4 linked regions of the Homo sapiens genome follow. The protein of the gene in region 3 interacts with the protein of the main gene of each other region in a biochemical or structural test. Each region holds a gene or a part of one and is shown on either strand. Other genes may lie near its edges. The genes, in order: EFNB1, ERBB3, NCK2 and PKD1.

What was found.
Region 1: the proteins of NCK2 (region 3) and EFNB1 form a complex in vitro, tested with the Homo sapiens proteins (one study listed by BioGRID).
Region 2: the proteins of NCK2 (region 3) and ERBB3 form a complex in vitro, tested with the Homo sapiens proteins (2 studies listed by BioGRID and IntAct, with this or other methods).
Region 4: the proteins of NCK2 (region 3) and PKD1 form a complex in vitro, tested with the Homo sapiens proteins (one study listed by BioGRID).

What each region holds. Positions count from the first base shown.
Region 1 is NC_000023.11:68,839,021-68,842,660, reverse strand, and holds the end of EFNB1 (ephrin-B1 precursor), read right to left. Parts: intron 2,998-3,640; coding exon 2,905-2,997; intron 2,702-2,904; coding exon 2,573-2,701; intron 2,420-2,572; coding exon 2,007-2,419; 3' UTR 501-2,006; downstream 1-500. UniProt on the Homo sapiens protein: Cell surface transmembrane ligand for Eph receptors, a family of receptor tyrosine kinases which are crucial for migration, repulsion and adhesion during neuronal, vascular and epithelial development.
Region 2 is NC_000012.12:56,083,121-56,090,166, reverse strand, and holds part of ERBB3 (receptor tyrosine-protein kinase erbB-3 isoform 1 precursor), read right to left. Parts: intron 6,854-7,046; exon of another isoform or gene 6,619-6,853; intron 6,417-6,618; coding exon 6,265-6,416; intron 5,173-6,264; coding exon 4,986-5,172; coding exon of another isoform or gene 4,855-4,985; exon of another isoform or gene 4,550-4,854; intron 3,637-4,549; coding exon 3,511-3,636; intron 2,591-3,510; coding exon 2,525-2,590; intron 2,373-2,524; coding exon 2,254-2,372; intron 2,147-2,253; coding exon 2,005-2,146; intron 1,625-2,004; coding exon 1,511-1,624; intron 1,420-1,510; coding exon 1,299-1,419; intron 1-1,298. UniProt on the Homo sapiens protein: Tyrosine-protein kinase that plays an essential role as cell surface receptor for neuregulins.
Region 3 is NC_000002.12:105,887,912-105,894,818, reverse strand, and holds the end of NCK2 (cytoplasmic protein NCK2), read right to left. Parts: intron 1,838-6,907; coding exon 1,643-1,837; 3' UTR 547-1,642; downstream 1-546. UniProt on the Homo sapiens protein: Adapter protein which associates with tyrosine-phosphorylated growth factor receptors or their cellular substrates. Maintains low levels of EIF2S1 phosphorylation by promoting its dephosphorylation by PP1.
Region 4 is NC_000016.10:2,132,898-2,139,806, reverse strand, and holds the start of PKD1 (polycystin-1 isoform 1 precursor), read left to right. Parts: upstream 1-3,908; 5' UTR 3,909-4,117; coding exon 4,118-4,332; intron 4,333-4,555; exon of another isoform or gene 4,556-4,774; coding exon of another isoform or gene 4,775-4,779; intron 4,780-6,602; exon of another isoform or gene 6,603-6,688; intron 6,689-6,909. UniProt on the Homo sapiens protein: Component of a heteromeric calcium-permeable ion channel formed by PKD1 and PKD2 that is activated by interaction between PKD1 and a Wnt family member, such as WNT3A and WNT9B. Both PKD1 and PKD2 are required for channel activity.

The sequences.
Region 1 (3,640 bases), on a different chromosome or scaffold from region 3:
TAGGCTGCAGCTGAAGTTCAGATCTTGGGAAGTTATTTCTATCCACCTCCAGGCGTCCTGAGGCAGGGCAGGGCTGGGCCTGCCAGCAGGTCCCAGATCTAGCCCCAGCTAGGTGGTGGCAGTACTTTGTGGACACACCCAGGTCCCCATGGGAACATCCCCTCCTCCATTAACCCTCTCTAACTGGGCCTGTGCCAGACTGGGCAGATGCCCGTGGCCTATGCCACAGAGGTGACAGGATGAACAGGGGAAATGGTCTCAGGCTCCATGACAGCAGAACAAGAGAGCAGAAAAACCTGGGGTGAGGGGAGTGGCAGGAGGGTCATAGGGCATTAAAACATCTTGCTCCACTAGGATAGCCATCATCTGCCCGTACCTGCCCCAGTCACCAGTGGTTTGAGCACAGGAAAGCGCACACACACACACCCCCACCACACACGCACGCACACAACTCTCACTCTCCATTTCCCAACATCACGACACCATTTTACACCCATTTCTCCATGTGGTTAATTTTTTTTTTTTAGTTCTCATTTTTTTCTAAGAAAAAAGCAACAAGAAAATAATTCAGAGTTTATACAAAACATCTTTACATTATTTTTTTTCCAAAAAGACTAGTATTTACACAAATGGCAACAGAAACAAAAACAAAAACCCTTCCGACTGCCACCTGGAAGGGGCTGGCTGTTCTGCTCCCTCTCCCACCTGGCACTGGGGTGGGCAGCTGGCCAGGAGGCAGTGTGGAGGTGGATGGTGTGAGGGCCAGCTCCTTCCATGGCTGCTCTGGGAGTGCCTGCAAGGCGCACTCAAGTGGCAGTCTGTTAGCAGCCGTGCTGGCAAGGAACTGGGGTCAAAGTGCACAGCGGGCTGGCCCAGCCCCAGGCAGCCTCTTCCTCTTTCCAGGCCCCAGCCCAAGACTGGGACAGCAGCAGGAGCTGGGTTGGGTGGGGGTTACCCACCTGTGCTAGGGCCCAGAAAAGGAGCAGGCCACCTGGTCTTATACCCGCTTAGGTCTCCACCCTGGGCCTCTGTTTCCCCACCAGGCCAAAGGATGCCAAAGGTAAGGAGAGAACAGGGTGGGGGGTGGGGGTGAAACTCCCAGCTCTGCAGGGCAAATAGCCACCTGGGCACCTCACCTCCCTCCACCCCCCATGAGGTCATCTGCCTGCAGCAGCTCTCCTGTTCCCCAGGCAACAGCCAATTAAGACATTAATTACCGTGAGAGTGAGGGAGGCAGGAGATGCCCAAGAATCCCACAAGGAAGGGATTTTTTTTTGTGTGTGTGTGTGTGTGTGTGTGTGTGGAAGGGTGGCAGTGACTACCCCATTGCCAGGATAAGCCTCGTAGGAGGGTCAGGAGGGGAGGGTGGGACACCTTGCCCAGTGGCACTTTCCTCTTCCCTCATGGGCGTGAACAGCCCTGGCCTGCCCCTTACCCCACCAGAAATACCAAGGAATCTATAAAAGAAATGGCATCCTATGCTTCCTGGCTGACCACATCGTGCCCCAGGCCCTCTTGTACTGGCTTGGGCCAGGCTCACAAAGCCTGGGGAGGGGCTGCCTTTTACATTTTTCCATTTTTCTTCAAAAAACAGATGAAAATGAGTTGACAGCTAAAAAATGAACACAAAAGCATTAAAAACAGTGATGATAGCGGACAAGCAGTCCTGGGAAGGTGGCAAGGGGGGCGAGGGAGGGGCAGGGCCAGGGGACTGTCTCCCTGCCTGCTGTCCATCAGTGTCCAGCCCTGCCTTCCAAGAAGGGGCGCCCCCACGGAGCCCAGAGGCCTGGCCAGAGGGGGAAGGCACAAGAGCATGGGGGTTAGGGGCACAAGCACCCCCCTCCGAAGCCCAGGGGGCAGGGAAAAAGGGGGATTATAAAAGCCAAGAAACTACAAAACTAAATACAAAGGTGGGCACAGCTGGCAAGGGGAGGGGGTGTGGGGGCGAAAGGAGAGGTCCGGTCCAGGCCGACTGTCCCTCGGGGGCCTGAGGCCGTGCCGGGCACTCAGACCTTGTAGTAGATGTTCGCCGGGCTCTGGGGCGGCATCTCTTGGACGATGTAGACAGGGTGCCCGTAGTCCCCACTCACCTTCTCATAGTGGGGGCAGTAGTTGTTCTCTGTAGTCCGTAAGGGAATGATGATGTCGCTGGGCTCGGTGCCCGCTGTGCCACTGCCCCCCTTGGGACTGGCCAGGGTACTGAGCGAGAGGGCAGCCGCCCGCTGCTGTGTGTGCTTGCGGTGCCGCTTGCGTAGCTTCAGTAGTAGGACCGTCAGGAAGATGATGATGAGCAGGAAGATGACGCAACCGGCACCGACAGCCGCGAACAATGCCACCTTGGAGTTGAAGAAGCCATCAGGGTCCCCGCTGCTGCCCCCACTTGCACCTGGGCCACTCTTCTCTTCCTGGTTCACAGTCTCTGAGGAAGGGAAAGGGGAAGGAACAGTCAGCCAGGGGTCCCAGGGACACACAGCAGATTTCAGGCCAGGCCCAGCTTGCATTTCTTCAGGGACAGGGCCTAACAAGGTGACAGAGCAATGGCTCCTGACCTCTGGGAAACACATACACTTACCATGCTTGCCATCAGAGTCACCCAGGGAGCCCCGACTACCAGGGGCCTGTGTGGCCATCTTGACAGTGTTGTCTGCCTCCTTGCTGGGCCTGCTGGTAGTCAGCTGCTCAGGCGTCACAGCATTGGGATCTAAGAATGGAGACAGAACAGGTGAGAGGCAGGGACCCGGCCAGCATAGGTGCCCTCAGTCATCAAGGGTGGGCCAAGAATGGCCTGGATACTGTAACCCTACGCCTGCTCCCCCACTCCTAATACACATGCACCCAGCCAGGAACATCTGTTCCAAAGGTCAAACAGGGTGGGGTGAGGGGACCCTCAGACTAGGCACTCACCTTGCCCAACCTTCATGATGATCTTCATGGTGCGTGTGCGGCACACACCGCCCTCCCGGTTTTCCAGCCCCTCCAGGCTTCCATTGGATGTTGCTGCAGGAAGAGGCCAGAGAAGTCAGAGAAGTCAGGAGGAGAGAAAGGTCTACTAGCATTACCCAGAAACTCCCATTCTGCTTCAGCCAACAGGGAGAGAAACTGCAGTCGGGAGAAGCAAGCAGCTCCCATCTACCAGTGAACCTTTTCATTTTCTTCCCTCCCACTAGGAACAAAATGGCCTAGTCCAGCCCAGGCCAAGAACAAGCCCCACCCCCAGGGGCACTGCTCCTCTGTCACGAGCAGGCCATGGCCCCTCGGTAAGGTCTGCCTCCTCACTGGGATCATAATGGGGGCTTCTACATAGACTGAAAGGAATTCTGGAGTAGGAATCAGGAGAACTGGGTTGGAGTCCTGACCCTATCTCTAACTCACTGTGTGATCTAAGGCAAGAAGTCCCTTCACCTTTTGGGGCCTTGGTTTCCCCTGAAGAAAAAGGCTGAATAGCTGGCTGATCCCAAAGGGCCTGGCATATGTTACCATTCCCAATATTAGAACTTAGGTGGGCAAAGAAAATAAGAGAGAAGCAACACGAATTGGAGACCTCTCCTGCCCAACCCCTGGAGCCAAGGTGAGCTTGGTAAATGTTGGGGCGAGAATTCCAAGGCCAGGCTAAGAGGAGAACATGCCAGTCTTCAAAGGG
Region 2 (7,046 bases), on a different chromosome or scaffold from region 3:
TTAGCCGGGCATGATGGCACACACCTATAATTCCAGCTACTCAGGAGACTGAGGCAGGAGAATTGCTTGAACCCGGGAGGCAGAGGAGGCGGAGGTTGCAGTGAGCCAAGATTGCACCACTGCACTCTAGCCTGGGGAACAGAGTGAGACTTTGTCTTAAAAAAAAAAAAAAAGTATATGGGGAATTTTATACCATTCTTGCAACTTTAGTGTAGATCTAAAATTATGTCAAAATAAAAAATTAAAGGAAAAAAAAAAACAGGTGGTCATAGTGGGTTTTTTTTACACACACACACACATTTTAAATGCTGTCCTATAGACTAGAAAGTCCCTTTGTTCTTTTTGCTCCAAGGAGCAGAATGAGTGAAAACAGCTAAAAGTCATGGGGAGACAGAATTTTCTTTTCTTTTCTTTTTTTTTTTTGAGAAAGAGTCTCGCTCTGTCGCCAGGCTGGAGTGCGGTGGTGTAATCTCGGTTCACTGCAATTTCCGCCTCCTGGGTTCAAGTGATTCTCGTGCCTCAGCCTCCTGAGTAGCTGGGATTACAGGCATGTGCACCACCACACCCAGCTAATTTTTGTGTTTTTAGTAGAGATGGCATTTCACCATGTTAGCCAGGATGGTCTCGATCTGACCTCGTAATCCGCCCACCTCGGCCTCCCAAAGTGCTGGGATTATAGGCATGAGCCACCGGGCCCAGCCTGGAGACAGATTTTTATCCAAATCTAAGGAAGAACTTTTACAAAACTTTAAGAAGGAGGTTGGGTGCTGTGATCCCTAGCACTTTGGGAGGCCAAGATGGGAGGATTGCTTGAGCACAGGAGTTCGAGATCAGCCTGGGCAACATAGCAAGACCCTGTCTCTACAAAAAAATACAAAAAAATTAGTCAAGTATGATGGTGTGTGCCTATAGTCCCAGCTACTTGGGATCACTTGAGCCCAGGAGGTCGAGGCTACAGTGAGTCGAGATCACGCCACTGCACTCCAGCCTAGGTGACAGAGCAAGACCCTATCTCAAAAAAGAAAAAAGAATAAAAAAGAAAACTTTAAGAAGGAGGATATGTTGTTCCTGTCCCTTGTTCCTTGGCAGGGCGATATTGAATTGCTCAAAGATGTTCCTGAGGGGACCGAAGGCCTGGATGGAGGATGTGTTAAGCATTCTTTCAGGTCCTTTGTAACAGGCTAGAATTTTATGACTTTGATTCCTAGTCAGCTCCACATAGGAAAGTTTTGGCCAATGAAATGAACTGTGAGGGGTGCGTGGGCTGGGGTCTAAGGAGGGAAGGCAGGATCTCTAACCCATTGAGGCCGGTGATCAGAAAGTCCAGGTTGCCCAGGATCTTGGTGCAGTTCACAAATCCATCAATGTTGCTCGAGTCCACAGTCTGGAAGCGGCTCCCAGAGCCTGTTCCCTCACAGGCTGCAAATGTAAGAGAGGTTCAGTGGGGGTGGTCTGCGCAGGCTCAGAGGAAAGGCTGTCTCTTTACAACTTCTTACCATCTCCTACCCACCTTTGGGACATAGTCCCCCACAAGGCTCACACATCTTGAGCCCATTTTTATCTACTTCCATCTTGTCAGGAGGACAGGCCCTGACACAGGATGTTTGATCCACCACAAAGTTATCTAGGGAAGAGGAGGAGGACACCATTAGAGATGAGGGAGGAACATCACCAGCTACCAATGGAACCCTTGCTCTGGGCCTAGGCTCCCTCCAGCTCTGCACTGGATTTGTCCCCATCTGCCACCCTAGATCCCTTAAGTGCTGCCCTATAGATTCAAAAGTCTCTTCACTATTTGTTGCTACAAGGAGCAGAAGTAAGGGTGATAGCTGAAGTCATGGGAGGACTGGACGTAAGGGTCACTCACTGGAGTGGTTAGATGATCATAACCATTCACCAATCTCCCTATTTATCACCAACTGGATTCTTTTTCCCTTCCACAATTTTGTCTAAAATCTTGGATCTACTATTGTTGATCATTGTTCCTTCCCCTCAGACACTTACGGGGACAGCTGGCTACACAAACTCCTCCATACTGATACTTGGTGTGGGGATTGGGTTCCAGCTGGAAAGTTAGCTTGTTGTAGACAAGAGGCTGTGGACAGCGAGGTACACAGGCTCCACTGTCATTGAAGTGCCGGCAGGCCTGGGAAAAAAGGAGGCTCATCAGATTTATGTTACGTGTGTACCCCTACCTCCTCCTCAAAGGCCACATCCCAATTTCAGAACCCAGGCAATGGAAAGGGTACATACAAAGCAGTCTGTGTCCTGAGGGCCTGAGCAGCCCCCGGCACACTCATCATGGCAGCACTGGTTGGGGTTGGGCCCAAAGCAGTGACCATTACACTGAGGAGCACAGATGGTCTTGGTCACTATGGAAGGAGAGAAAGCATGGCTGTTAGGGCTCCTAGGACTGAATTCTGAGGCCACTGCTCATGCCTCCCCCACAGTGTTGACCCAGGCTTGGGGAGGAAGGGATATGAAAGCGTATGAGTGAAGTTTTTGGAGGGAATTTCAAACCCACATGTCTGGCAGTCTTCTGATCCAGGACCCCAGCATCGCCCCTTGCAAACCTCATGACAGGGGGGACCTGGTTGGGAAGGAAGGCAACACAAGGGGCCATCAGGGCTAAGAAAGGCTTGTTTTAATCAACGGGGTATGATGTCAGTACACAGGCACCTCAATCCCGGGAAGCAAAAAGCCAGGGCTGTGTCCCTCCCTGCCCTTGGAGAGCAGGGCTGGGCTCAAGTGGACCTGTCAACAAGGGGCGCGGCCACGCCTCCACACCACCCACTGGGCAGCTGAAGGGGAGGGACTGGGGCAAATGCCAACCTTAGTCCTAGTCCCAACCCAGGAACTTAGTTCCTCCTGGGCAAACTGAATATATGCAGGAATATATGCATGTGAATGGTCAGGGGAAGGTGGGCTCCAAGGAAATGGGAGTATATTCTAGTGGAACGAGTAACAGATGTGGAGTCTAAAGATCTGGCTTCCCTGCTTAGTACTCAGGGATTTTTTTTTTTTTTTTTTGAGACAGGGTCTCACTCTGTTGCCCAGGCTAGAGTACAATGGCACAATCACAGCTCACTGCAGCTGCAGCCTCCTGGGCTCAAGCAATCCTCTGCCTCAGCCTCCTGAGTAGCCGGGATTACAGGTGCGAGCCACTACGCCTGTCTGATTTTTTTAATTTTTTGTAGATTTTTTGCTATGTTACTCAGGCTGGTCTTGGACTCCTGGGCTCAAGCGATCCTCCCACCTTGGCTTCCCAAAGTGCCAGGATTATAGGCATGAGCCACCATGCTCGGCCTGCTCCTTTTCTTGAAACACCTCCTCTGTGGTTTAGATTCCAGGAGACTGGAATGGTCTGCCCTGGTGGGCTGCTGAGTCAGGGACCTGAGGTGTTTGTTCACTGGGGAGGCGGGTTCAGATCAGGAATGTAAGGATGATGGAAAGAAGGGAGTCACTCTGGTTTGGTGGGACTGGGGAGCAATCTTGATCACGGCCACTTACAGCTTCTGCCATTGTCCTTCACCACTATCTCAGCATCTCGGTCCCTCACGATGTCCCTCCAGTCAATTGTGTCCATGTGACAAAGCTTATCGTTCTTCTCAATATAAACACCCCCTGACAGAATCTCTGAGGTAGGGAAAGAAGTGACAGGGTTAAGGGCCGCAGCGGAACGCCTCTTCCTTACCTCTCCACCCATCCAAAAGGACACCTGAGACTCAGGAGTGGGAGAATGAGGCAGACAGATAGGTCCAATTAAATCTAAGCTGCAGAGAAGACTCCCTTTATAAGATGAGGAGTCAGGCCAAAAGAAACTCCTGCCTCCTCAGTCACCTGTCCAGATCCGGTTTAGCTAGTGGGGGAGGGGAAGGGAGAGAGGGAGAGATTTCTGACTCAACATTCCCTCCCCCAAGCCCTGCCCATATGTTTTCCAACTGACTGGGACATGGAGAAGCAGAAGATGGACAGGTGGTTTTTAACCCCTATATTCCTCCAGCTCATAGGGGTTTGGTTTAGGAGAGTAAAGGTAGAATTCCTAGGGAAGGAGGGACATCCAGGTATACTGTACTTTGGTTTTTTTTTTTTTTTTTTTTTTTGGAGTCTCGCTCTGTCGCCCAGGCTGGAGTGCAGTGGTGCAATCTTGGCTCACTGCAAGCTCCGCCTCCCGGGTTCACGCCATTCTCCTGCCTCAGCCTCCCGAGTAGCTCGGACTACAGGCGCCCGCCACCACACCTGGCTAATTTTTTGTATTTTTAGTAGAGACGGGGTTTCACCGTGTTAGCCAGGATGGTCTCGATCTCCTGACCTTGTGATCCACCTGCCTTGGCCTCCCAAAGTGCTGGGATTACAGGCGTGAGCCACCGCGCCCAGGCTTTTTTTTTTTTTTTTTTTTTTTTTTGAGACGGAGTCTCACTGTCACTTACGCTAGAGTGCAGTGGTGCAATCTCAGCTCACTGCAACCTCCACCTCCCAGGTTCAAGCGAGTCTCCTGCCTCAGCCTCATGAACAGCTGGGATTACAGGTGCGCACCACTATAGCCAGCTAATTTTTTATTTTATTTTATTTTTTTGTATTTTTAGTAGAGACAGGGTTTCGCCATGTTGGCCAGGCTGGTCTCAAACTCCTGATCTCAAGTGATCTGCCCTCCTTGGCCTCCCAAAATGCTGGGATTACAGGTGTAAGCCATCAGGCCTGGCCTCCGGTACACTGTACTTTGAAATTAGAAAAACGGTTAACAGATCCAGCTCTGACTCCAGCCCCACAAGGACACAGGGTTCCTTTCCCTGGAGCAGATGCCCCTAGCTCCCCCTACTGGGGGCCCTCTATTGCTTAGGGAGCAATGGACCTTTAGACAGCGGCCAAGGTGACAGGCACCTTGGAAGAGGCACTTAGAGTGAGCAGTCTTGGGTCATCATCAAGGAGGTACCAGTCTTGGGCTGGCTGAGGGGTGAGGCCAGAAGGAACCATCGGGAACTGACCGGTGAGCTGAGTCAAGCGGAGCTGGCGCAGAGCGTGGCTGGAGTTGGTGTTATAGTTCAACATGACGAAGATGGCAAACTTCCCATCGTAGACCTGGGTCCCTCGCACCACGCGGAGGTTGGGCAATGGTAGAGTAGAGAATTCATTCATGGCCACGAGGACATAGCCTGTCACTTCTCGAATCCACTGTGACAGAGCAGATTATGTAAATGAGAGAGACAACAGGGCAAAATAATCTCAATCTCCTCTCCTCCTTCAGGCATTAAAGACTCTTTAACTGTTTTAATTCTTCCTTCTTTCTTTCCTTTCTTTTTTTCTTTTTTTTAAAATTTGAGACGGAGTTACGCTCTTGTTGCCCAGGCTGGAGTACAATAGTGCGATCTTGGCTCACCACAACCTCCACCTCCCGGGTTCAAGCAATTCTCCTGCCGCAGCCTCCCAAGTAGCTGGGATTACAGGCATGTGCCACTACACCTGGCTAATTTTGTATTTTTAGTAGAGATGTGGTTTTTCCATGTTGGTCAGGCTGGTCTCGAACTCCTGACCTCAGGTGATCCGAGCTTGGCCTTTTTTTTTTTTTTTGGTGAGACAGGGTCTCGCTCTGTTACGAGTGGCACAATCTCGCTCACTGCAGCGTCAAACTCCTGGGCTCAAGCAATCCTCCCACCTCAGCCCTCCAAGTAGCTGGGACTACAGGTGCATGCCACCATACCCAGCTAATTTTTGTATTTTTGTAGAGACAGCGTTTCACCACATTGCCCAGGCTGGTCTTGAACTCCTGACCTCAAGTGATCTGCCTTCCTTGGCCTCCCAAAGTGCTGGGATTACAGGCATGAGCCACTGCACCTGGCCTTAACTCTTGCTAATTCCTATTTGGGAGTAGGGAGTAGACTGTGTCACACTGCTGTGTCACTTCTGGGAGTGAAGACAGGCAGCTTTCTCCTCAAAGTGCCTCATACCAGTAGGGCCCCTTCCTCATCTCCCCAGGTAACCTCTTGGTCCTCAGGTTTCTCTCTGCACTAGTCCCTGCTGACCTTGCACTATCCACAGAACACCACCTGCCCCTGACCCTGCCCCCTATATATCCCTGGCTACAACAGTGAGACCATAGGTCCCAGATGACAGCCACTGTCCCCATAAATACACGGTTTTGAATCTTAGGAACTCCTGAGTCTTAGGAAGGGTGAACTCCAGCAGAAGGTAGCCCTGAAGAAGGAAGGAGGGTTCTAGGGGAGAATAAAGAGGAGCAGGTTGAGGAAGGAGGGTGGGCTCACTAACCTGCAGGAAGGAGAGGTCGGCATTGTGTCCCGTGAGCACAATCTCAAGGTTCCCCATCACCACCTCACACCTCTCGTAGAGCTTGTACAGTGTCTGGTATTGGTTCTCAGCATCGCCGGTCACACTCAGGCCATTCAGAGTCCCAGGACACACTGTTCAAAGCAGAGGGAAGAGTGGCTGAGGGCTGGACACAAATTCTCAGCCCATCTGCCATCCCCAAAGATCACCCCCTTGGTTGCCCTCTTCCAGTTACATTAGACAGGATCAGATGGCATTTGCCTCCAACCCTCCCACAAGCGATAGGCAGAAGCTGTAGTGGCCTGAGAGCTTTCTCTCTTCTCAGAATCCCCTTACCATTCCATGAATGGGAAGGTGAAAAGATTTCCTTTTTCAACCTGGGACCCCTCTGTGCTTCTTTTGGGTACTAAGGGGTTAACTGAGAAGGAAGACAGGGAATTTGTTTCTCTCCCTAGAAAAGAGAAGTTAGGAAAAGGCCGCAACTTTGATTACCCTCCTCTCCCCCTCCAACTAGGGCACTCACTTCTCTACCCTCATCCTGCCTCTCTCTAGGTCCTGGAATAAATATCTCTTTGGGACTAGTACACAGCCCCTATTGTGTCTACTGAGGGTGGGATGGGGGCAGAGGGTGGGGGCAGTGCCTGGGGCCACAGTCCAGCCCACAATGAGGCGATTCTATCCAGGAGGGGGGCTGCCCCACCCTGTCCCTAGACACCCCGTCCTCAGCAGCACTCCCCTCCACCCTCAAGCCTTGGGCTCAGACA
Region 3 (6,907 bases):
CATGTTGGGTGCACTGCCTGTAGACCTCACTTTCCCCATCTATAAAATGGGGATGATAGCAGGTCCCACCTCATGGGGCTGTGATGAGGAACAAATGGGGGCGCAGTGCATGGTGCAGAGGGAGCGCTTGATACGTGATTGGCCTAGGAGGGCACAAATGCCAAGTCATGTGACTCTGCACCCCCAGGGCCTGGCACATCAATATAAATGCTCCCGATCAAGAGGACAAATCGAGAGTTAGTCGTGGGGGACACATGGTGTGAGAGCGCTGGCTGCCAAGAGTTCAGCAACATATTTCTAAACAAATATTTTCCAAAGAGCAAAGTTCAGACCAAGCTTGAGATTCTGGGTTCCCTTGGGGTTTCACTAATTAAAACTCATTATTTCAATATACAAAAATGTGGGGGTAGAAAATGAAAACACACAAGTAATAAATGTTAAGCTCTTCTCTAAAAATGATTTCCACTCCGCAATGAGTGAATGCTTCAGTAATTACTCTCCCATGATTGAGTCTGAGTTTTCCCAAAGATAAATACACACAGAGCCTTGTCATAATACTTTTTTTTATTACAATATCCAAAAAACTGGGTATGCAAGTTTAGGGGATCTCAAGACCCCTTCTTCAATCGTAGGAATGTGCCATCTCAAGACGTTATATTTAAACTATAAAGAAGTTCAAATGTAAAGGAAAAAGAAAATGCAATTTCTTCATAAACATTCTGTGTGTCTCTTACTACCAATCACATACTCTTTTGTAAACCCTGAAAAATTTCCCTGTAAATAATATATATATATATAGTGTGTGTGTGTGTGTGTGTGCACGTGTGTGTGTGTATAAAGTGTTGGTAGCTCCCTTCCCCAAAGATCAGCTGTTTTCCTTAATCATCTGTATTAGTGTCAACAAACGGCTACAGATACATATTTCTTTGAGAATTAAATACATAATTGTGAGATTCAAACAAGCCGAAGGGCAAGAGGAAAAAGCACTATGTGGATGGCACATTTGGGGTAAATTACCAAAACATCTGTCTTTCTGAGTCACCGGTTCCCTCTTTTGCAGACTGCCTTTCCAGGAAATTCTTTATTGCAAGCACAGCCCCAAAGGCACTGGGCAGTCTCCTCACTGCCATCGCACCCGGTGGTTCCAGTATTGCTATCAGCAAACGTATCGGCTCCCTGCACAGTCCGGGAGCCATGTAAGGGCACAGGACATGGGCGAGGGCTGCTAGGACTGGGGCCATCGCACCTGCTCTGCCCAGCACGCTGAGTGCCCAGGACACGGGCGCTGCCGCTGGGTGGCCTTAGGCTCGCTCCTGCGCTCACAGGTGCCCTGCGTCTTTTTAAAGAGGGGTTCCATGAGCGGGAACGAGTTGAATGCACGAGCGCCACTTCCGATGGAAAAGGAATAATGTGAACTCGCCCTGCTCCTCCCCTCCTCTAAAGCTGGCCGGCCGGGTGGGCTCGAGTGTGGGTGTGAGGCCTGGATGGCAAATGGGAGACGAACCGACCAAGCGACCTGAACATAAAGAGAGACTCGCAGAGAAGCCGTCGGGGCCGTCCCCGCGGGAGGAGCCTCTGCCACAAGGCCGGGCGGGCAGCTCCACCGTGGGGCCCGGGAGGCGAGTGTGGGGCCGGGGCGCCGTCACTGCAGGGCCCTGACGAGGTAGAGCTTCTCCCCGTGCTCGCTGGTGAAGATGGGCGCCTTTTTGTAGTGTTCCACCAGCTCGTCCATGGTGTGGAAGCGCCGCTGCCCAATGCAGTAGACATTGTCCACGAGCTGCACCTTGAAGTGTTTGTTCTTCCCTGACGCTTTAAGGGACACGGAGAAGTCGCTGGGCTGGGGAGGAAACAGAACACAGTTACAGCCGGGCCACAGCGGGGAGCTGTGTCTAAATCCATCCACATCTCTTGTGCGTCTAAATCCAAACCACCCATTGCTCAAACACTGGGTCTCTGCTTTTTTTTTTTTTTTTGAGATGGAGTTTCACTCTTTTGCCCAGGCTGTAGTGTAGTGGCCCAATCTCGGCTCACTGCAACCTCCGCCTCACGGGTTCAAGCGATTCTCCTGTCTCGGCCTCCCGAGTACCTGGGATTACAGGAACCTGCCACCATGCCCGGCTAATATTTGTATTTTTAGTAGAGACAGGGTTTCGCCATGTTGGCCAGGCTGGTCTTGAACTTCTGACCTCAGGTGATCCCCACCCCCCTCCCAGCCTCAGCCTTCCAAATTGCTCGGATTACAGGCATGAGCCACCACGCCCAGCCGGGTCTCTGTTTTATATCTAGAACGGCATCTGATGTTCAGAAAGACCTGGAGGTAGTCCACGATTCTGAAATTCTGAACCAAAGAAAAAATAAATTCTGCTTAGCCCAGTTTCAGTGCTAAATGCGTTTTAGTTATTTGAAAAGTGCAAACTCATTATGGAATATACAGCACTTCACTATGGAATATACAGTGTTGCCCTGACTGCTCAAGAAATTTGCTGTTTTTCATTTCCCAAACTATTTTTTGATAAACTGGGAATTTATTAAGAGTGGTTTGCATGCAGGCAGTAGCTAGAAATTTTACTACTTCTGATGTCTAACCCTATTAGAAATTAAGACATCAAAATTTTTCTAATTCTTTTTTTTTTTGAGACGCAGTTTTGCTTTTGTTGCCCAGGCTAGAGTGCAATGGTGTGATCTTGGCTCACTGCAACCTGCGCCTCCCAGGTTCAAGCAGATTCTCCTGCCTCAGCCTCCCGATGTGCCACCATGCCTGGCTAATTTTTCTAATTCTAAGCATTTAAAAATATGAACAGCAGTGGAAAATTCCGGTCGCATTTTAAACATAGTTCACAATATCCCAGAGGAAGCTGAACTATGGTTTGATTACAGATTTTATTGAAAAATATTTAAATTCTGTGATGTGCCTTCTATTTCAGAATATTTTAGAAACATGTCATTATTTTAATTAAAATGTGTCTTTTATTGGCCAGGTGCAGTAGCTCACGCCTGTAATCTCAGCACTTTGGGAGGCCAAGGCAGGTGGATCACCTGTGGTCAGGACTTTGAGACCAGCCTGGCCAACATGGTGAAACCTCATCTCTGCTAAAAAATACAAAATTAGCCAGGCATGGTGGTAGTGTGCCTGTAATCCCAGCTACTTGGGAGGCTGAGGCAGGAGAATCGCTTGAACCTGGGAGGTGGAAGTTGTAAGCTGAGATCACGCCACTGCACTCTGGTCTGGGCAACAAGAGCGAAAAATCTCAAAAAAAAAAAAAAAAAAAAAAAAAAAAAAAAAAAATTGGTCTTTTATCTCATTTGCTGAAAAGCATGCAGGAAAGAAGATACTGAACGATAAATGTTCTTTGTACAAAAATATCAAGTTTTGATCAATTCATTAAATGAATAACAATTAGTTACTAACACATGCCAGGCAGGCGGTGCCCTGGATACATGTGTGTGCATGCAGGACATATGCTCTGTGACAATCTGGTGTGGGGAACAGATAAATAGAGGTGTACAGATGGCTGCACAGGGCAGTAAGTTCTATGAAAAAAAAAAAGAAAACAAACAAAAAAAAGAGTTGCATGAAAGAGGAGCATGAGATACCGCAGCTCTAAGTGTGTGAGCGTGCGCAGATGTGAGAGGGAGTATGTGAGTATTGAGAGTGTGTGAGAGTATGCGTAGCGTGTGAGTTCATCTGTGTGAATGTATAAGTGCGTGTGGGGGCAGGAGAGCCCTCTGGACAATGTGGAGCTGAGCATGTGCTCTCCGAGGCAGGGCTGGTACCTCGGACATGCCTGGCCAGTGGCAGGACCACAGCCTAACATCCGAAATTCTTCCTGGAATTCCCAGACCAGTTTTCTGCTTTTCTCAAAGCCCAGAAACTTCCTGCTCTGAGGGTCCAGCAGCTCAGCCCTGCTCTGCGACCTCCCAGCAGGACCTCCAGACAGTTAACAAAGGACTAGGCCATTGTCTATTACAGAGTTCACAAAAGCCCAAATAAATGTTTGATGAGAAGTGTGCAACCCTTGCAAAACAAGGAATCACTCCATTTCTACCAATGACAACTCAGGGGAATGAGTGTCTGAGAAGACTCAAATTGTGCAAGGCAGCTGGGCTCACCCAGCAGCCATAGCTGTTAACAGAAAAGAATGAAAGGAACAATTGTAAGTATAGTTTGTATTTATGCATGCCTCTGTCTCAAATAGACCAAATAAGAACAAACCTTTGAGGCGAAAAGCCCCATCTCATCCCCATGTGAGGCCCAGGGCATACTCCTGGATGAAACTCCAGGAAGAAACCAGAAGGTTAATCTCAGATTAGGCCTCAGCCTATAGATGATTAATATTCTGTACTAGAAGTTGTATCTTTAGGAAAAGATGAAGGGCAGTCTCACTTATAGAGTTTACTATAAGCCAGGCTCAATTTAGAGATAATGTGGCATCATTTTTAGTGGAGGCAGTATGGGAGTGAATCATGGTAGATGTAAGATACACCCAATTTTAATTAAGCCAAATGATCAACAGATGACTTTCTACATAAGGGAAATTTGCTTTTAATTCAAGCTCCTTAATTTAACATCATGGTGTGTGTGTGCCTGTATGCATGCATGAGTTGCAGCAATAAAATTTTCGCAGCAGAAGAGGTAATTTTTAATTTCGTGGGCTCCTGAGCAGAAACCTTTAAAAGTTAAGGATGTAGAACCAATTTATGCCAAGCAGGAGTGCTAAAAGTTGGGGAGTGTTCTTTAATTTAAACTAAGTAGATTTTCTGTAGGAAATCTGAAAAAGAACAATCTGTATACTAACATACACCGTTACATATGACCACTGAACACCTCTAAGTGAAGTGTGAAGATGAACTAGTTAAGATGTTCTCCAAGTGTGCTCTCAAGACCAGCAGCATGAGCATCCTCTGAGAACTGGTTAGGAAGCATATTCTCAAGGGCCAGCCATGGAAGCTCACACCTGTAATCCCTGCCCTTTGGGATGCCATGGTGGCAGGATTACTTGAGGCCAGGACTTTGAGATCAGCCTGGGCAACATAGTGGGACCCTATCTCTACATAAAATTTAAAATAATTAGCCAGGTGTGGTGATGCATACCTGTGGTCCCAGCTACTTGGGAGGCCAGGGTGGGAGGATCACTTGAGCCCGGGAGGTCAAGGCAACAGTGAGGTATGACAGGGCCACTGCACTCCAGCCTAGATGACAGAGTGAGACCCTATCTCAAAATAATTAAAAAAAAAAAAAAAAAAAAAGAAATGCAAATTCTCAGGCTCTGCCTCAACCCTGCTGTAGCAGAAATTCTGGGGTGGAGCCCAGCCATCTGTGTTTTAACCTCCAGCACCGTGTGTTTTAATAAGCCCTTCAGGGGACTCTGATGCAGTTTGAGAACTGGAAGAAAGAAAATCTGGAACAAACATCGGCAGTGCTGGAGCCACCAACAAATGTTTGGTCACCAGAAAAAGATGGGAATGCCATTTATGGGCAAAGCAGCCCATGATGGAGGGAGCTCCAGTCTGTGGATACTTTTCCAATTCTGTCCTGAGGACTCTGGCTCTGCTCCAGACATCTCTCATAGGGAATTTCCCCTGAAGGGACAGCTGGGACACTGCTGTATGGTCTCCTCCTTTCAAAGTGAGCCACCAGTCCCTGCATCTGATGGAGATGGAGTTACTCCCGACCCAAAACAACTCTGCCTCCAGAGGGAGCCAGGGAATGATTCCCATGAAAGCAACTCCATCAGTCCTATTCTCATCTGTTGCAGTCCTTCCACGGTTGGCTTTCTAGAACAGATTTCAAGAAATTGGATGAAAAAGGACCATGCCACACTTGCTCCTCAACAAGTACTAGAGTACTGATAGTATGGTAGAGTACTCTACATTTAAGCTTGTCAAAGAATCTTAACACATTTTTGAAACATGCAGTCAGGATGCTGGCTGAGGCTGCAGTCATCTGAAGGCTAGACTGGGGATGCAGGCTCTACTTCCAAGGCAGTCTGCTCACATGAACCCCTAGGGGGCTCTGTAGGGCTGCCTGAATGTACTCTCAACATGACAGCTGGCTCACCCTAGATCAAGTGACCCAAGAGAGAGCAAAGAGGCAGCCACAATGCCCATCTCGGAAGCTGCCCTCCATCGCTTCTGCCACATCTTGGTCATTAGAAGTGAGTTGCTCAGTGCAGCCCATGCTGAAGGGAAGAGGGTCAGGCTCCACCTTCTGAAGCAAAGAGTACCAAAGAATTTATGGACATCTTTTTAAGCCATCATAGATGGACAGGACACTCATTACAATTTTCTATGATTGGACTAAAACCTAACTAGACTCAGTCCCCGGGTTTTGAAACATCTCCCCTTTGATTTCTCCTCTTTAATTGCCACCTTTGTGCTACCTCCCACTGTCCGCATTTCCTACACTTTCCATCTCCAAACACTGTACTTACTTGGTATATAGTAATTTCTCTGTGCTGACTACTGGGCAAATTCTTCAAATTTTCAAACATCAGACCACTTCTTCCTGTTATGTCCTTCTATGAGTACTCCTTATAAGGAATGATTTTTCCATTCTCATAGTTTTTGAATCAATGGTTCTGGAGAATGAACAATTAGTACAACCCATTCATTTGACCCTTCTTTTCAGAAGTCATTTTCCAAGTGGAATCTAAGGACAATTAATAGGTTGGCGGAAAACCAACCTCTCTCGGGGCCTCTATCATCATTATTTTTGTTTAGGCTTTAGATTCTGTGTTTGAATACAACTAAGTGCAAGAACCCTATTTAGCTCCACATCCCCACACCGGGCTCAGAGTATCTGGTGTTCAACAAACGTGCAGACTTAAAAATTTCTAATTTTGACTACCTCTTCCATTATTCATTCCTTTAGGTAATTCTTACACCTCATCTCTTTGCAATTTGTGCT
Region 4 (6,909 bases), on a different chromosome or scaffold from region 3:
TGCCTGGCTAATTTTTTGTTTGTATTTTTTGTAGAAATGGGGTCTCTTGGCTGGGCGCGGTGGCTCACACCTGTAATCCCAGCACTTTGGGAGGCCAAGGCGGGTGGATCACGAGGTCAGGAGATCGAGACCATCCTGGCTAACACGGTGAAACTCTGTCTCTACTAAAAATACAAAAAATTCTCCGGGCGTGGTGGCGGGCGCCTGTAGTCCCATCTACTCGGGAGGCGAGGCAGGAGAACGGCGTGCGCCCGGGAGGCGGAGCTTGCAGTGAGCCGAAATCGCGCCACTGCACTCCAGCCTGGGTGGCAGAGCGAGACTCCGTCTCAAAAAAAGAAAAAACAACAAACAAAAAAAAAGAAATGGGGTCTCTCTGTGTTGTCCAGGCTGGCCTCAGTGATCCTCCTTCCTTGGCCTCCCAAAGTTCTGGGATTACAGGCATGAACCACTGTGTCCAGACAAAAATTGATCTGTAAACTTTTTGAGACAGCATCTCACCCTGTTCCCCAGGCTGGAGTGCAGTGGTGTGATCATGGCTCACTGCAGCGTCAACCTCCTGGGTCTACTTGATCCTTCTTCGAGGGAAGGTGTAATAAACCCTCCTGCAATGTCTTTGTTTTTCAAAATCTTTGTATTTCACAGTTTAGCTTCGTGGGTTGATGTTCTATTTTGTTTTTGTGTGTGTGTGTGTGTGTTTTGTGTTTTTTTTTGAGACACAGTCTTGCTCTTGTTGCCCAGGCTGGAGTGCAATGGTGTGATCTTGGCTCACTGCAACTTCCACCTCTTGGGTTCAAGAGATTCTCCTGCCTCAGCCTTCCGAGTAGCTAGGATTACAGGCGCCGCCACCACACCCCGCTAATTTTGTATTTTTAGTAGAGATGGGGTTTCTCCATATTGGTCAGGCTGGTCTCAAACTCCCGACCTCAGGTGATCCGCCCACCTCAGCCTCCCAAAATGCTGGGATTACAGGCGTGAGTCACCGCACCTGGCCAATGTTCTATTTTTGAGAACACAACAGTTCATAATATATTCTACATAGACCATACCTGTTATGTGTAGATAAACAGACTCTTTTCCCATTTAACACCTTTTGCCTTAGGTTTATTTTTCTGGTATCAATACTGGCACACTTACTTTGTTTGCAGTTTCCTGTCTTTTTTTTTTTTTTTTTTTTTTTTGAGACAGAGTCTCACTCTGTCACCCAGGCTGGAGTGAAGTGGCGGGATCTCGGCTCACTGCAACCTCTACCTCCTGGGTTCATGCGATTCTCCTGCCTCAGCTTCCCGAATAGCTGAGACCACAACTGTGTGCCACCATGCCCAGCCAATTTTTGTATTTTTAGTAGACACGGGGTTTCACCATACTGGCCAGGATGGCTCAATCTCTTGACCTCGTGATCCACCTGCCTCCGCCTCCCAAAGTGCTGGGATTACAGGCATGAGCCACTGTGCCTGGCCTTTTTTTTTCTTTTTGAGATGGAGTCTCACTCTGTCACCCAGGCTGGAGTGCAGTGGGGTAACCTCAGGTCACTGCGACCTCCGCCTCCCGGGTTCCAGTGATTCTCCTGCCTCAGCCTCCCGAGTAGCTGGGATTACAGGCACCCACCACCATGCCTGGCTAATTTTTGTATTTTTAGTAGAGACGGGGTTTTGCCACGTTGGCCAGGTTGGTCTCGAACTCTTGGCCTCATGTGACCCGCCTGCCTTGGCCTCCCAAAGTGCTGGGATTACAGGTGTGAGCCACTGTGCCTGGCCTGGCTTTCTTGTTTCTTTTCTCCTCTTCTAGTTTCCCCCTTTTAGGCTAACAATTATTCACTGTTAATAAAAACCCTCAGGTCTGTATTTTATCAAGAAACATTTCCCTCACGTCTTCTTCCCTGAACCAAACAAGATCTCTGGCACATTTTATTTGCTCTGTCTCACCACATGGATTTTGTTTTTTTGTTTCTTTGTTTTTTGAGATGGAGTCTCACTCTTGTTGCCCAGGCTGGAGTGCCATGGCACAATCTCAGCTCACTGCAACCTCCACCTCCTGGGTTCAAGCGATTCTCCTGTCTCAGCCTCCTGAGTAGCTGGGATTACAGGCGCGTGGCACCACCCCCAGCTAATTTTTGTATTTTTAGTAGAGACGGGGTTTCACCATGTTGGTCAGGCTGGTCTCGAACTCCTGACCTTGTGATCTGCCCACCTTGGCCTCCCAAAGTGCTGGGATTACAGGCATGAGCCACCACGCCCGGCCCCCATGGTTTTTCAAATAGTTTAGAATTTCATTTCCAGGTAACTAATTTGCTTCTTTAAACATATGTCTTTTCTATTTAAGAAATCCTTTCTAAACAATTGCATTTTATTCCACAACCGCCTTCAAACAATCATTGAGACTTGGTTAATCTGTTTTGCTCATTTGGCAGCAGTTTCTTGTGGCTGTTTCTTCCCTCCACTGGAGTCCTTGAATCTTAAGTCTGTCATTTGACTGCAATTAAAAGCTGGGTTTGGAATACAATCGCAGCCTTACCATCCACCTGCTGTGTGACCTGGTAAATTTCTTTTTTTTTTTTTGAGACGGAGTCTTGCTCTGTTGCCCAGGCTGGAGTGCAGTGGCACAACCTCTGCCTCCCAGGTTCAAGCGATTCTATTGCCTCAGGCTCCCTAGTAGCTGGGATTATAGGTGCCTGCCACCATGCCCAGCTGATTTTTGTATTTTTAGTAGAGATGAGGTTTCACCATGTTGGCTAGGCTGGTCTCGAACTTCTGATCTTGTGATCTGCCCGCCTCGGCCTCCCAAAGTGCTGGGATTACAGGCATGAGCCACCACTCCCAGCCAGTTCTTTTTTTCTTTTTTCCATTTTTTTTTTTTTCGAGACAGGATCTTACTCTTTTGCCCAGGCGGGAGTGCAGTGGCACAATCACGGCTCAGCGCAGCCACTGCCTACTGGGCTCACACGCTCCTCCGGCCTCAGCCTCTCGAGTACCTGGGACTACAAGCGTGAGCCAGTTTGGCTAATTTTGGCTAATTTTTGTAGAAACGGGGTCTCGCCATGTTGGCCAGGCTGGTCTCCAACTCCTGGACTCAAGGGATCCACCTTCCTCCCCCTCTCAAAGTTCTGGGATTACCGGAGTGAGCCACTGTGCCCTGCTGGCAAATTTCTTAAACTGTCTGTGCCTCAGTGACCTCATTTAATAAAGGGAATAATTGTAGCACACTTTTTCTAGAGCTGTGAAGATTCAATGGAATAAATAAGGCAATAAATGAATGGATGGGGAATGAAGGATGTGGGTTTCCTCCCTCTTGTCTTTCAATAAGCTCTCACCATCAACCTCCCATTGCCTGTTCTCTCTCTTCCCCCTCTCTCCCTCTGTCTCTCTCTCAGCCAGGAAACCTGGGGTAGGGAGGCTTGGAGCCAGCGGGTGCGTCGGGAGGCTGCGGGTACTGACTCGGGCCGCGCACGGAGATTGCGGGAGAAGGATCCACACCGCGGAAGAAGGATCAGGGTGGAGCCTGTGGCTGCTGCAGGAGGAGGAACCCGCCGCCTGGCCCACACCACAGGAGAAGGGCGGAGCCAGATGGCACCCTGCCCACCGCTTCCCGCCCACGCACTTTAGCCTGCAGCGGGGCGGAGCGTGAAAAATAGCTCGTGCGCCTCGGCCGACTCTGCAGTGCGACGGGCGGAGCTTCCAGACGCTCCGCCCCACGTCGCATGCGCCCCGGGAACGCGTGGGGCGGAGCTTCCGGAGGCCCCGCCCTGCTGCCGACCCTGTGGAGCGGAGGGTGAAGCCTCCGGATGCCAGTCCCTCATCGCTGGCCCGGTCGCGCTGTGGCGAAGGGGGCGGAGCCTGCACCCGCCCCGCCCCCCCTCGCCCCGTCCGCCCCGCGCCGCGCGGGGAGGAGGAGGAGGAGCCGCGGCGGGGCCCGCACTGCAGCGCCAGCGTCCGAGCGGGCGGCCGAGCTCCCGGAGCGGCCTGGCCCCGAGCCCCGAGCGGGCGTCGCTCAGCAGCAGGTCGCGGCCGCAGCCCCATCCAGCCCCGCGCCCGCCATGCCGTCCGCGGGCCCCGCCTGAGCTGCGGCCTCCGCGCGCGGGCGGGCCTGGGGACGGCGGGGCCATGCGCGCGCTGCCCTAACGATGCCGCCCGCCGCGCCCGCCCGCCTGGCGCTGGCCCTGGGCCTGGGCCTGTGGCTCGGGGCGCTGGCGGGGGGCCCCGGGCGCGGCTGCGGGCCCTGCGAGCCCCCCTGCCTCTGCGGCCCAGCGCCCGGCGCCGCCTGCCGCGTCAACTGCTCGGGCCGCGGGCTGCGGACGCTCGGTCCCGCGCTGCGCATCCCCGCGGACGCCACAGCGCTGTGAGTAGCGGGCCCAGCGGCACCCGGGAGAGGCCGCGGGACGGGCGGGCGTGGGCGCGTTCCCTGGCCCGGGACGGGAAGCAGGACGCGGGCCAGGACGCTCCCAGGGCGAGGCTCCGGCGCGGCACGGCGGCCCTGCTAAATAAGGAACGCCTGGAGCCGCGGTTGGCACGGCCCCGGGGAGCCGAAAAACCCCGGGTCTGGAGACAGACGTCCCACCCGGGGGCTCTGCAGACGCCAGCGGGGGCGGGGCGCGGAGGCCGCGCTCAGCTGGGAGGACAAACAGTCGCTAATTGGAGAGGAATTGGGATGCGGCCTGGGGCTGCGGGGTACCCGGAGAGGTGGGGATGGCTGTAGGGGGCGGCAGGGAAGAGTTCCAGGAGGTGTCTGGAAAAGGATTTGATGGATGTGCAAGAATTGGGCTGATGCTTAGGAAGGGGCGATGAGGTGGGTCCAGAAGAAGGGGGGTGAACGGTGTGAGCAAAGACCGTGAGGCTGGAGGCTGGCCACGGGAGGTGTGAGGGGTAGGGGCAGGGTGGGAGGTGGGCTCGCGGGTGGGCTGGGGTCATGAAGGGCCTCAGGCGCTCTGCTATTGGGTTCCAAGGCTATCCTGAGAACAGGGGTGAGGGGGGATTGCCGTGGGGGGTTAAAGCCTTGTCATGTTCGCTTTCGGGAGATAAAAACAACAGGTGGCCTTTATGGAGACGCTGCCCAGAGCCAGGTCTGTGCCAGGCTCCTGTTGGGGGTCGTCATGCGGAATCCTGACTCTGACCATCCGAGGCATAGGGACCGTGGAGATTTGCATTTCACAGATGAGGAAACAGGTTTGGAGAGGTGACACGACCTGTCCCAGGCATCACAGCCGGGATGTGCATAGCAGGGGTTTGGAACTATGAGGTGCCCAGGACCCAGGGTTGGATTGAAAAGGGCGGAGGGGACTAAGATAAGCAGACAGTTGTCCCCAGCGCTGGGGAGAGTCTTGGGACCAGTCTGATGCCTTGTATTTCCCAGGCTCCAGGCTCCTCGCCGGGACAGTGTCTCCTTGGGTGCGTGCTGGATCCCTGGGGGACGTGGCACATCCCCAGGCTTGCTAAACATTGGGTGGGTTCTGGCATTTGGTTTTGTAACGTTTCTGGGTCACTCCCGCCTGTGGCCACCCTTCCTTAGGGGAGCCGTGTGTCCTTGGGGCTTTGCTGGGTGGTCTCGAGGGTGGGAGAAGAATGGGTTCTCCTGGACCAATGGAGCCCGTGCCCCTCGGGGCCACATTGCTCCTGCGCTCCCTGACTGCGGACGCGTGTGTCTCGCGGCTGTCTCTGTGGAGATGGCCTCCTCCTGCCTGGCAACAGCACCCACAGAATTGCATCAGACCTACCCCACCCGTTGTTTGTGATGCTGTAGCTGAGGGCTCCTCTGTCTGCCAGGCCGGTCACTGGGGACTCTGTCCAGGGCCTGGTGGTTCCTGCTTCCCAGCACCTGATGGTGTCCATGAGAGCAGCCCCTCAGGAGCTGTCCGGGAGAGAAGGGCGCTGGTGGCTGCTGAGCGGAGAGCAAGGCCCGTGTTCTCCAGGCCCTTGGCACAGCAGTGGAGCCCCCGCCCCTGCCTTGTGTTGTCCTCTTAGGCTCTGGTCCTGGGGTTTGGAGGAGGGGGACCCTGGGAGTTGGTGGCCTGTCCCAGCCTGAGCTGGCAAGATTCCGAATGCCAGGCCCCCCAAGTGTGCAACAGGGCACAGGGTGACCTCATGTGGGCAGGTGGGTGCTGTTCTGTACACACCTGGGGCCGCCGCTGGGAGAGTTCTGGAAGGTGGGGTGAGGGGACCCATGGCAAACTAGGGCCTTAGGAAGGATGTGAAGGCCCTGGCTGGCCCCCCAGGCCACCCTCTGTGCTGTGGGGCAGCCCAGCCATTTTGCTGTCTACCCTGCAAACTCCTCCTCGGGGAGACGGCTGGGTTTTCCCCAGGGAAGAGGGGTCAAGCTGGGAGAGGTGAAGGACACAGATCACAGCTGCTGGCAGGTGTTCAAGGGTCCAAGAGCGTTGCTGTCTGGGTGTCACCAGTAGCCTTCCTGGGGGGCTCACGCAGGTGCCTCTCCACTTGTGGCTCCCTGGCTGCTGAAGCTCAGCAGGGACAGCTGTGTCCAGTTCCAGGTGGAGGACAGCCGGGGCTTCTGAGGCCACAGCCTGCCTTGGGTTAATGATGCTGCCGAGAGGTGGTGGCTTTTGGAAAAGATGGCGTACTGCAAAACGTGCTGCTCTGCGTGGCTCGAAGCTTCGTGGGGAGACGTGGGCAGAGCCGTGGCTGACTCACAGACCCCCCACCCCAGAGCCTGCCCTGCCCTCCCTGCCCCGACCCTTCTCCCTCCTGACCCATGTGTTTTTTTTTTTTTTTTTTTTTTTTGAGACAGAGTTCACTCTTGTTGCCAAGGCTGGAGTGCAATGGCACGATCTCGGCTCATGGCAACCTCCGCCTCCTGGGTTCAAGCGCTTTTTCCTGCCTCAGCCTCCCGAGTAGCTGGGATTACAGGCGTGCACCACCATGCCTGGCTAATTTTGTATTTTTAGTAGAGACAGGGTTTCTCCAT